3 linked regions of the Homo sapiens genome follow. The protein of the gene in region 3 interacts with the protein of the main gene of each other region in a pairwise test. Each region holds a gene or a part of one and is shown on either strand. Other genes may lie near its edges. The genes, in order: RORA, ESRRG and NR0B1.

Region 1 (3,660 bases), on a different chromosome or scaffold from region 3:
ATGACATATTCTGGTGGTAAAACTATTATAACTATTTACCAACCTGAAAACACAGAATGTGAAAGTCCCCTAGAATAATAATCCGTTTTCCAAAAGACTGGTTAAGTTTGGTGTCTATTCCTTCAGATTTGCATATTTTACATATAAATGTATATATTTAAATGACAATGTGCTACATGACAGTTCATTATATATATCATCTGTCATATAACTTTTAAAAAAATCACTCATTTTAGATACTTATCCATTCTTCTTAATAACTATGTTCATTTTATTTAAATTATAGAAATCCAAAATTTATTATTAATTATTCTGAGACAGAGTCTCAATCTGTCACCCAGGCTGGGGTGCAGTGGCATGATCTCAGCTCAGTTAAACCTCCACCTCCCGGTTTCAAGTGATTCTCCTGCCTCAGCCTCCTGAGTAGCTGGGACTACAGGCGTGTGCCACCATGCCCAGCTAATTTTTGTATTTTTAGTAGAGATGGGCTTTGCCATGTTGGCCAGACTGGTCTCAAACTCCTGACCTCAGGTGATCCGCCTGCCTTGGCCTCCCAAAGTGCTGCTATTACAGGCATGAGTCACCGCACCTGGCCCCAAATTATTTATTATAAATTATATATCATGGTTTCACTTAACTGTAACTTTTATTTCTTTGATATCTGCATTTCAGTCTCATTAATGGTTACTGTTTGAGGGGGATGGAAGGGCAAAGCTTTTGCCCTTTGCTTAATTTTATGTATCAGCTCACATCCTAAAGGTCATCCGAATAATATATCACCAGCAAATCTGGTTTCTTAAAATCTGGAAGGGAACTGGAAGGACACGTCATATAAATCCCTTTGATTACCAACTAGATAAAATGAAACTCTACATCTTTACAAGTAATGTAGACAAAAAACTTTTGAGCTATATGACTTTTCTACAGTGACTAACTAGAAAGTAAAATAGGTATAAAACCCCTTAATTTTTGTTTCTAAATAAAGTTTTCATTTTGTCCAAGCAGAGCTTTCACTCAACCCGCATCTTTTCCTATAGCCCTGATTTGAAGAAAAGGCACCTTGATATCCCCTTACCTAAGGATTTGAAGACGTCGGGGCTGGCATACTTCCCATCAAAGTACACGGTGTTGTTCTGAGAGTCAAAGGCACGGCACATTCTGATAAACACCACCTCTAGAGAACCTAAGCAGAGGCAGAAATGGTTTGGGTCATTTGGGTCATCTGATGTTAGTGAGTTTGTTTCTAAGCTGCTCATGTAGAGACTCCTTCTGCAACAGCATGGTGGGTGTCGTGTGCAGTTTAGCTAGCGGGTTCTCAGTCACATCAGCTGTCTATCCAAAAGGGCAGAGTTTTCTATGTAATTAAAAGACTGTTGTGCTGAAGCTAAGCCCTGTTTAACTGAAGTGAGGGTTGATTTATAAATTACTTCCTTAGCACTCTTCTACCTCGCAATGCAGAGTCTCAGAGTTGCTAGGAAAGCATTTATTCATATGTACTAAAACCAAGAATCAAAAACAAGTATATCTTTCTGAGTTCTACTTTCTTCTTCCTAACATCATAAACTCGGAGGACTTGGAGTGTAGAAACAAAACACACGTGATGGGAAAATTTGGGAATGTAGGTGACCTTCAAATTAATCTTTTCACCCAGAAGAGAAGAAAAGTGGGGGGAATGTTTCCTGAATATATCTTAAAACCTTTGAAAAGAACTCCATTTCTGCTAAGAAAAACCTGAGCTATTATCATTGGAGAAAAACTGTTCCCGACACCTTCCTTACCAAGCATTTCTTTAATAAGCGGGTGAAAGCAGGTTAGGAAGAGATCTCAAAATTCACTTGCAAAGCACATACCTGCTTTTAGAAGCACAATTTGATCATTTTGACACAGTTCCATAAATCCATCAATGCGTTTGGCAAACTCCACCACATACTGTATAGCTTCTGTAATTTTGATGGCACACAATTGCCACATCACCTCCCGCTGCTGTTAAAGAGGGAAACACATTAACATCCTCCAGGAAGATGTTAGCTTTTGTAGCAGAAGCTGCAGAGTTATGAAAGCAAAGCATGCCACTGCTTTAGCCCTGGGCCACGAAGAGTGGCAAAGTGGGATCTTATTTTATTTTATTTTATTTTTGAGATGGAGTCTCGCTCTGTCACCCAGGCTGGAGTGCAGTGGAACAATCTCAGCTCACTGCAACCTCTGCCTCCTGGGTTCAAGTGATTGTCCTGCCTCAGCCTCCTGAGTAGCTGGGATTAGAGGCACCTGCCACCACACCCAGCTAATTTCTGTATGTTTAATAGAGACAGAGTTTCACCATGTTGGCCAGGCTGGTCTTGAACTCCGGACCTCAAGTGTTGTCTGCCTGGGCCTCCCAAAGTGCTGGGATTACAGGGATGAGCCACCGTGCCCGGTCTGGATCTTCTTTTAAGTAATTATTTTGCCTTGGGAAATTTAACACCACTTTACTTTGGGGGAAGGGAGAAAAGGAGAATCAACTGAATTTATTGTGCACCTACTATGAGCTAGGCGCTTTATGACATCCTTGTTTTAATTCACTTTCATAAGAATATTTTTTCTGGCTGGGCACGGTGGTTCACGCCTGTAAACCCAGCACTTTGGGAGGCCGAGGCAGGGGGATCACTTGAGGTCTGGAGTTCAAGACCAGCCTGGCTAACATGGTGAAACCCTGTTCCTACCAAAAATACAAAAATTAGCCAGGCGTGGTGGTACACACCGGTACTCCCAGCTACTTGGGAAGCTGAGGCAGAAGAATTACTTGAACCCGGGAGGCGGAGGTTGCAGTGAGCCGAGATTGCGCCAGTGCAAGTGTCAGCTTGGCGACAGAGTGAGACTGTCTCAAAACAAAACAAAACAAAAAACTGGTGGATATGGGAGCCAGGATTCAAATCCAAGCATCTCTGACTCTAAAATCCTATTTCATATACTTTGTTGCTTCTTACTGTTTTCTTGCTTCTCCTTTGTAGCTTTGGCTGCTGGCATTACCTGCTACCTCAAAGGCAAACAAAGCAATGTGTTGCTATTCCCCAACATGTCCTGTTAAATTCCTTTTATATTCGCACTCTCCATTTCAGTTACAGAATGGTCTGGATCTTTTTCGTTGCTAACTTGTTTCCCCAATCTTAGTTTCAGACTGTTCCCACCGATATGATGGGGTGGAAGAAACACTGAATTAGGAGCCAGGAGTCAAGGTCTGGTCTTGATGTTTCACTCTCCAGACATGCCAGTGGATGTTAGTTTTCCTCAAATGTAAAATGGATTCACTTAGATAATCTTGTTGATCTGGGTGTTTTACAGAAAAAGGCAAGTAGGGTACTATTTGTCAGCCTCATATTGCTAGGTTCAGACTGGAGTTATGATCACAGCTTCTAAATTTTTTTTGTATATACTCCCTAATACAACTTCCAGAAACATGAGGCTTCCTTGTCAACTTCCAGAAACATTAGGCTGAGATTATTTTACATAAACTTCCAGACCTTAAAATCTTGATTGTGATATTGAGACAATTCTCAATTCATTTAGACTTTTGGAAGCTGCTTAATCTATTCTCCTGTTGACAAATGGAAGGAGGTATGTGTATACCTAGAAAGCACAATAGAAATTATTTGCTATTGCTGAAATTTTGCATCTGAGTTAAAT
Region 2 (3,660 bases), on a different chromosome or scaffold from region 3:
TCTCATTAAAGAATCCTAACTTTATAATTAATCTCATTCCTTTCTTGAAAAAAAAAAAAAAAAGATTTCTCCTGTAGGAGTTTGCTCGTTCAGCACAACTCACAGATGCCCTAACTTATTTAACCAGAGCACACTAGCATTTTACAAGTCTGATCAGCTAAGTTTCAAATACCTGTAACCCATCTGCTGAAAAAAGAGGGAGACTGGATTGACATAGGGCATAACTGCATCTTCTAACATCAGAAATGATGTTTAATAGAATTGGAGTGGAGAAAGGAGTACTTAATTTCTCCAGAGAATGTACAGCAGAGACGCACCTGCTTATCAAAGAAGCTGCTGTTGATGCTGAAGTTTCTTTTATCAACATATTCACCTGTAATTTCATCAAGGTAATAAATCCCTCTATTCATAACAGCACACTCAAAAGCACCCCTCCTATTTAACTTGAATGAAAAAAGGCACAGAGTGTCTAAAACATTTACTTTTGCTAATGTAACAGTGTTGGCATTTTACTTCATTCCTGATAAGCTGGTGCCAGTAGAAGTGATTATTCTTTTCTTATTCAAAGCCTATCAGCATTTCGAAAAGCTCTCTCAGTCTTATCAGGTGTATGAACAGCACAGTTAACTGAAAACAGTTTGTACTGCTCCTCTCTCTTTCTGCCAAGCTATCTGATAAACCCCCAACTAACTAACTGTATTTACACACAATCAAACATAAGTTGTATCTTCTATGCACTATAGCCAGATTCCAGTTTACCATAGGTTTTTCTGCTGTAACATTAACTTAGCAAAAATGTCAGCCTCCAGTATCCCAAACTGACAACAATCAAGAAAACACTATAAAAGCACTCAACTAGAATGCACTACAAACAGAAACAAAAAGAAAAACAAATATAAAAAGTTGAAGGCAATCTCTTTGGAATTCAGAGGGAAAATCAGGTGTACTCTGTATGCAAATATGGGTGAATATCATGCACTTACCTTTTACCAAAGTAAATGACCCTTTAATAAAACAGATGAATAGAAACAGAAATTGTAAAGGAAAATACTGCCGGGATAGAGGAAGGGAAGGTGTTTAGGAAAGTGTTTTAGAACTTAGCAGGCATTCCCCCCACACTTCAGGTTATCTCAATGTGGCAGCAGAGAAGTTCTATAATGTAAGCAAAGGAAGACAATAGACAATATCACCGAACTTACCCCAGAAACTGAAGACAAGATAGAAAGCAAGGCTGTCACATATGGTGACCACATTCTCAGGATAGATTTTCCAATCATTAAAACCCTCATAAATGCTCTAGACATTAAAGTTTTGTTCACTATAAGAAAATAAAGAAATAAAAAAATACAATTTGAGTTTTTAACCTCTTATTATTTGTCTTATTCTTCAGACTTAACCAACTGAATAGTTCAATATAAAGACATGAAAAAAGAATCATCATTCACATTAATGTAAATAGATGATCTGTTCTCCATTTCTATCTATTAAAAAATGCTTAAACTAGGTCATGGCTCATACGAATTGAAAGACACACCTAATCATTTACGGGTAGTACTTTGGAGCATGAAAGATAACAATGACATTTCTAGAGCATAAGAGAAATCGGAAATCTACTTGAATGACTGAGTAACAACAAATTCCTGACCCTAGGAAAGAATCTCTGCCTGAGCTTCTGTGCATAAATTGTCCATTTGTTCCTCACCTCCCTTTGCTGAATGACTACGAGAGAACAGAAAAAGGCGGCCACATGCTCCCACCTGAGCCCAACTCCTGATGCTGTCTAGACTCCAAGAACAGAATGAGCCTTCCTTTAGATGTGTAGAGCAATAAGATGAATTAGCCAAGTGTGTAGTTCAGTACAATTCAGCTGATAGTTGCTTTTCCATCTGTGACACTATGATCCCATGACTGATGAGGCAGGTCTCATTCAAGTCTATGGATAAAAGGGATGTTTCCGTCATTTCATAGGACCCAGCACCAACTGTATACAGTCACTTTCTCATAGGAAAAAGACATGGTTCTCACCAACCATATACATCTTTCCCTTTCTTTGGTCATGAACAGTTGGTTACGGGTATGATATTCCTCCTCAAAATATCTGATCTGTTTTAATGGATTAATGGCTGAAAAGAAATTAAAAATTATCAGAATATTCTTTTATTTATGTGAAAATGAATACAATTTAACATGCCCATCTTACATTTTTGGAGAAGTTAATGTACTAGGATAATTTGGAATTATGGAGGGCAAAGGGCAATCAATTGAACAACCTCACAGTTTATTTTTTTTCTCTTTAATGAGTACCTCAGTCTATAATTTTTTATATGACCTGTTATTTTGGTTAATTTTGGATGCAGTTCTGGATATATGACTAATATGCATTTACTATTATTTTCAAAGCAACATAAGTTCTTATAAATATTGTTACATAATAACTGCCTTGAAAAGTATCCTTTTAAGATATTTTAACTCACATTGTGAGTATGAAAAAAATACATATTTCTTTAATGAATCCTTTGTTCAAATTCTCAAAAGCCATGAAAAATGAGTAAAATCTTTCTAGAGTAGATGAAAAAGGAATTATCATTTACAAAGGTATTGTTGTGATCATGGAAAAAAAGAATTTAGTGTGCTTCTGCCTATTTTCTGTACATAAGTTCTTAATTTATATTTTAATTTTCTTTTGTTTTTGCATATTGAATATGCCATACAAAAAGAAAGCGTAAGATTTTTTTGTTTTCCAGAAAACATATGCAAAGTGCAACAAAAAGAGGTGTCCCCTGATAAAGGTGGATTGTCCGTGTTCCTTTGGATTCTCCACTTCTTCAAGTTTTTATTTACTTCATAAATAAGAGCCACTGAGGTTCACCACTTCAGAGACTTTTGTCTTTCTAAACCTATTTTACTTTCAAGGTAGTAGAAAAATTTGAATGAACCTAATTTATTTTTTTCTTGGAAACTTATTGCTATCTATGCTATCTGTATTCCTACAGTTCATTTTTAAAGATAAGTAAGCAAGCAAGCTGTTTTTTCATTACATTTATACTAGCCATCAATCTGATATGAGAATTTATTGGTAGCTTCCCTTTTATTTAGTACCATCTTAGCCAACTGTTTGCAGAAAAGGTGTATAATGAAGCAAAGTTAAATTGACATGTCTGTGATATGCCTGACAGCCCTCAGTATGCCCAATATTAATTTGTTTTCTTTGGCTAGGTAAGTCCTGCCAAAGCATATTACACATAATGTGTACTTCCAACCAAAATGATGAAAAGTATATATGAAATTTTGTTTCACTCAAAGAAAAATGAGAAGTCACAGAGGAATATATATGACAAAGACTGTTTTTTATAATTAAAATATAAATGTACTTTTCAGTTCTTCTTTTAGAATTTAATCTAATCTGAAGTAGGCTCCCTGTAAGTTTTGGCAATTTAATAGGTATTTAAAATTTTTTAAATGCCAAAACCAAGTGTTTTCCTTTTCTATATTGTTTGAAAGAATTCCATATAGCCATAGGTTGTATTTCTAATTGTTAGTGTTGCGTGGTTTATAGCTACATTCAAATGCACATATAGATCTTTGCCAGTATACTGAAATGGACTTTAACTGACCAGAAGGAAGCCAATTTCTTTAAAACTGTACCTTTTCTTTCATTGT
Region 3 (2,845 bases):
AATGTCCATAGGATTCAATAGACTGCCAAAGGGATCTGCACGAAAGAAAGTTTAAGACTTCCTGCAATGGGTTATTACCCTAGACTAGATACACTCATTAATAACAGGCAATTTATTGCCCATAAACAAATAGACATATAGTAGCCTTGATTTTATCTGGACACAAAGAAAAATTAGTTCTATGGATTATAATTAAAGGGGCAGCAGGAGATAACAATAAAGTTGCTTTATGATTTCATGCCATGTTGTTCAATATACCAGTTACAAACGTAATGTATCTAAAAGATGAAGTGTAATTAGTGGTTTTATAATGATGTTGAGCTTTCTGGAACTATAACCCCTCATTATAGAATGTATGTTCCTTGTGGATCTTTAAATCCATAACTGTGTACCAAAAAGATCCCCCAATAAAACAGAAAATCTCCTCTTTCACTTCTGCATGTCTTTATAATTACAGATTGCTTCTTGACTCCAGTTGGATGCAAACGCAGTCTTCCATACAGCTGAGGGAAGTGGAAATGAAGATAGAGCAAAGTGACCTCCCACTGATACTGGCACATAATTACATTCAATGTCATGTTGTTACTTCCAAAGATACTTTTTGCTTATGTTGGCTAGGTTTTAATAGTTTTTGAGGCCTTACTTAAACCCTGCTGAAGCTTTTTTCAATCAAGTTAATAGTTAAGACCTTAAAATTTATTATAACAATATGTACAAATTTGATTTGAGCAGGTTCCATGAAATTGCTACACTTGTGAAAATAGCTTATTATACTAGTACCCTGCTATTTTTTTTTTAAAAGATGTACAGAGCTATGCTACCTGTTGGCAAATGTCTTCTTTAACTATGGAACAGAGAAATTTGTGACTGTCTGGAATAAAATTATTTCTTTAATTGAATACAAAAATACTCTGCATGTAAAAATATTAAGAAAGTTTATTTTAAAATATTTTACACTCTTTTGCCCACAGCTCTTTATTCTTCCCTCATGGTGAACTGCACTACTGCACTTGTGTGGCCCACATGACTTTATATCTTTGTACAGAGCATTTCCAGCATCATATCATCCATGCTGACTGTGCCGATGATGGGCCTGAAGAACAGTTCAGCAATGACATTGGCATTGATGAATCTCAGCAGGAAAAGGGTACTATTAAGTTCGATGAATCTGTCATGGGGCCCTTGGTGCGTCATCCTGGTGTGTTCACTGAGTATTTGCTGAGTTCCCCACTGGAGTCCCTGAATGTACTTCACGCACTGCAGGCCCGGCACGTCTGGAGGGAGAAAAATCTCTTTGTTATAAAACAGCTCACCACAGAGTCCTTTGCTAGCTTTTTAAAAATAGCCATTTCTGTTTCATCCCAATTAAACAAGACCCAAAGCTTCCCGGTTAAAAGGGTAAAAGGCCAAACCAGTCTACGTTTTCAGAAGCAACGTGTCCAAGAATGAAACATCATGTGATCTTACTTAATATTTACTATGTTTCTATGCACACGTTTGCAAATACACTGGCCATGAGCCAACAAACGCACACAATTTAATATGACAGTAGAATACGGTTTAATGAATCATCACTCCAGTTCACTTTCTATGCAAATATGAAGAAGTTCATGATATTTCAAGAGGTGGGCACTTTACCTATGAGAAACAAGCCATGATAAACAAGAAGTGTTGCCATGAGACAAATGTTTTTACCATTCTTCTTTGAACTTTCCATCATTACACTGATCGTTCAGCCAATGGTGGTAAACTTCACAGCCACAAACTTTGACGCACAGTTTCATTTTACCTATTTGCCTGCAGGCCAATATTAGTCTAGAGGCCCGAATAATTTGAAAGCTAACACTGGCCACTTAGCTCATTGCACCATGATTTCTGTATTGGGGAAGATTTTGAAAAAAATAAAAGAATGATTCTAATGAGTGTTCAAAAAGGCTCTTTTCAAAAATATTAAAGTAAGAAGTTTTTGAAAATTCTTATAGTCATTAAAAGTTTAAAAAGTAAACATGAAAACATCACGAATTGTACCATGATTCAAGAATAACTTTTGTAATAGAAAACACATGACCTTTTGCAGTATAGTGTGATACCGAAGTAAAAGTGAAAGAAATAAATGCAGGAAAGTTTAAGTGGATGTAAGTTTTTATAAGGAAAGTAATAAGAGGAGGCTGCTTTTGAAGGTCCTTTGATCTTCCATGATGATAATATCGTTGCAAAGTTCTTTAACTTGTATTCAAGTAATTAGCAGTTGACCACTTGGTTTAAATGATGTTAATGATGATTGCAATCATTTTCCTTCCCTTTTCCTAAAAAATTCAACAGAAAAGTATTTTAAAAGCACCATGCCAATCATCACAGAGCAGCAGAACCAGTGTTCTTTAAAAAAATAATAATGGTAATAAGCGAGAGGCACTCCTATTATGGGCGAATATCAAATCTCATAAATAAGAACAAAAATAAAGCAACCATTTTAATCCATATTCCAGTTCTGATTACTCTAGTCCACACATTATCATCCCCTTCTATCTACAGCTTGAGATCCAGGCTTAAGACCCAATTTTGTTGTGTTTGAATTCCATCGATGAAAGTAGGAAGAGGCTTGCATGAAACTCCACCAGAAATCTGAAGCTTCTCTAGGTCTAGATTCATGGCTTGTGAAAACTTCATCTTGTGTATGCCACATTACTTTTCTCTGTGTTCACAATATACCCCTCCACCTTCTCCCCACCCAAGTGGTTCCCCCCCACACAGAGACACACAAACTGGCCTTCAAAATAAGGTCAGGGAAGAGAAAATGCAAATGGACTCCACAGTTTTATATCTCCTTAAGTTTGAACCTATATAT

What was found.
Region 1: the proteins of NR0B1 (region 3) and RORA interact in a two-hybrid assay, tested with the Homo sapiens proteins (one large-scale study listed by BioGRID and IntAct).
Region 2: the proteins of NR0B1 (region 3) and ESRRG interact in binary tests that used the Homo sapiens proteins (3 or more experiments, as listed by UniProt).

The regions. Positions count from the first base shown.
Region 1 is NC_000015.10:60,501,685-60,505,344, forward strand, and holds part of RORA (nuclear receptor ROR-alpha), read right to left. Parts: intron 1,984-3,660; coding exon 1,851-1,983; intron 1,184-1,850; coding exon 1,076-1,183; intron 1-1,075. UniProt on the Homo sapiens protein: Nuclear receptor that binds DNA as a monomer to ROR response elements (RORE) containing a single core motif half-site 5'-AGGTCA-3' preceded by a short A-T-rich sequence.
Region 2 is NC_000001.11:216,713,317-216,716,976, forward strand, and holds part of ESRRG (estrogen-related receptor gamma), read right to left. Parts: intron 1,934-3,660; exon of another isoform or gene 1,758-1,933; intron 1,319-1,757; exon of another isoform or gene 1,200-1,318; intron 1-1,199. UniProt on the Homo sapiens protein: Orphan receptor that acts as a transcription activator in the absence of bound ligand. Binds specifically to an estrogen response element and activates reporter genes controlled by estrogen response elements.
Region 3 is NC_000023.11:30,303,550-30,306,394, forward strand, and holds the end of NR0B1 (nuclear receptor subfamily 0 group B member 1), read right to left. Parts: intron 1,275-2,845; coding exon 1,030-1,274; 3' UTR 657-1,029; downstream 1-656. UniProt on the Homo sapiens protein: Nuclear receptor that lacks a DNA-binding domain and acts as a corepressor that inhibits the transcriptional activity of other nuclear receptors through heterodimeric interactions.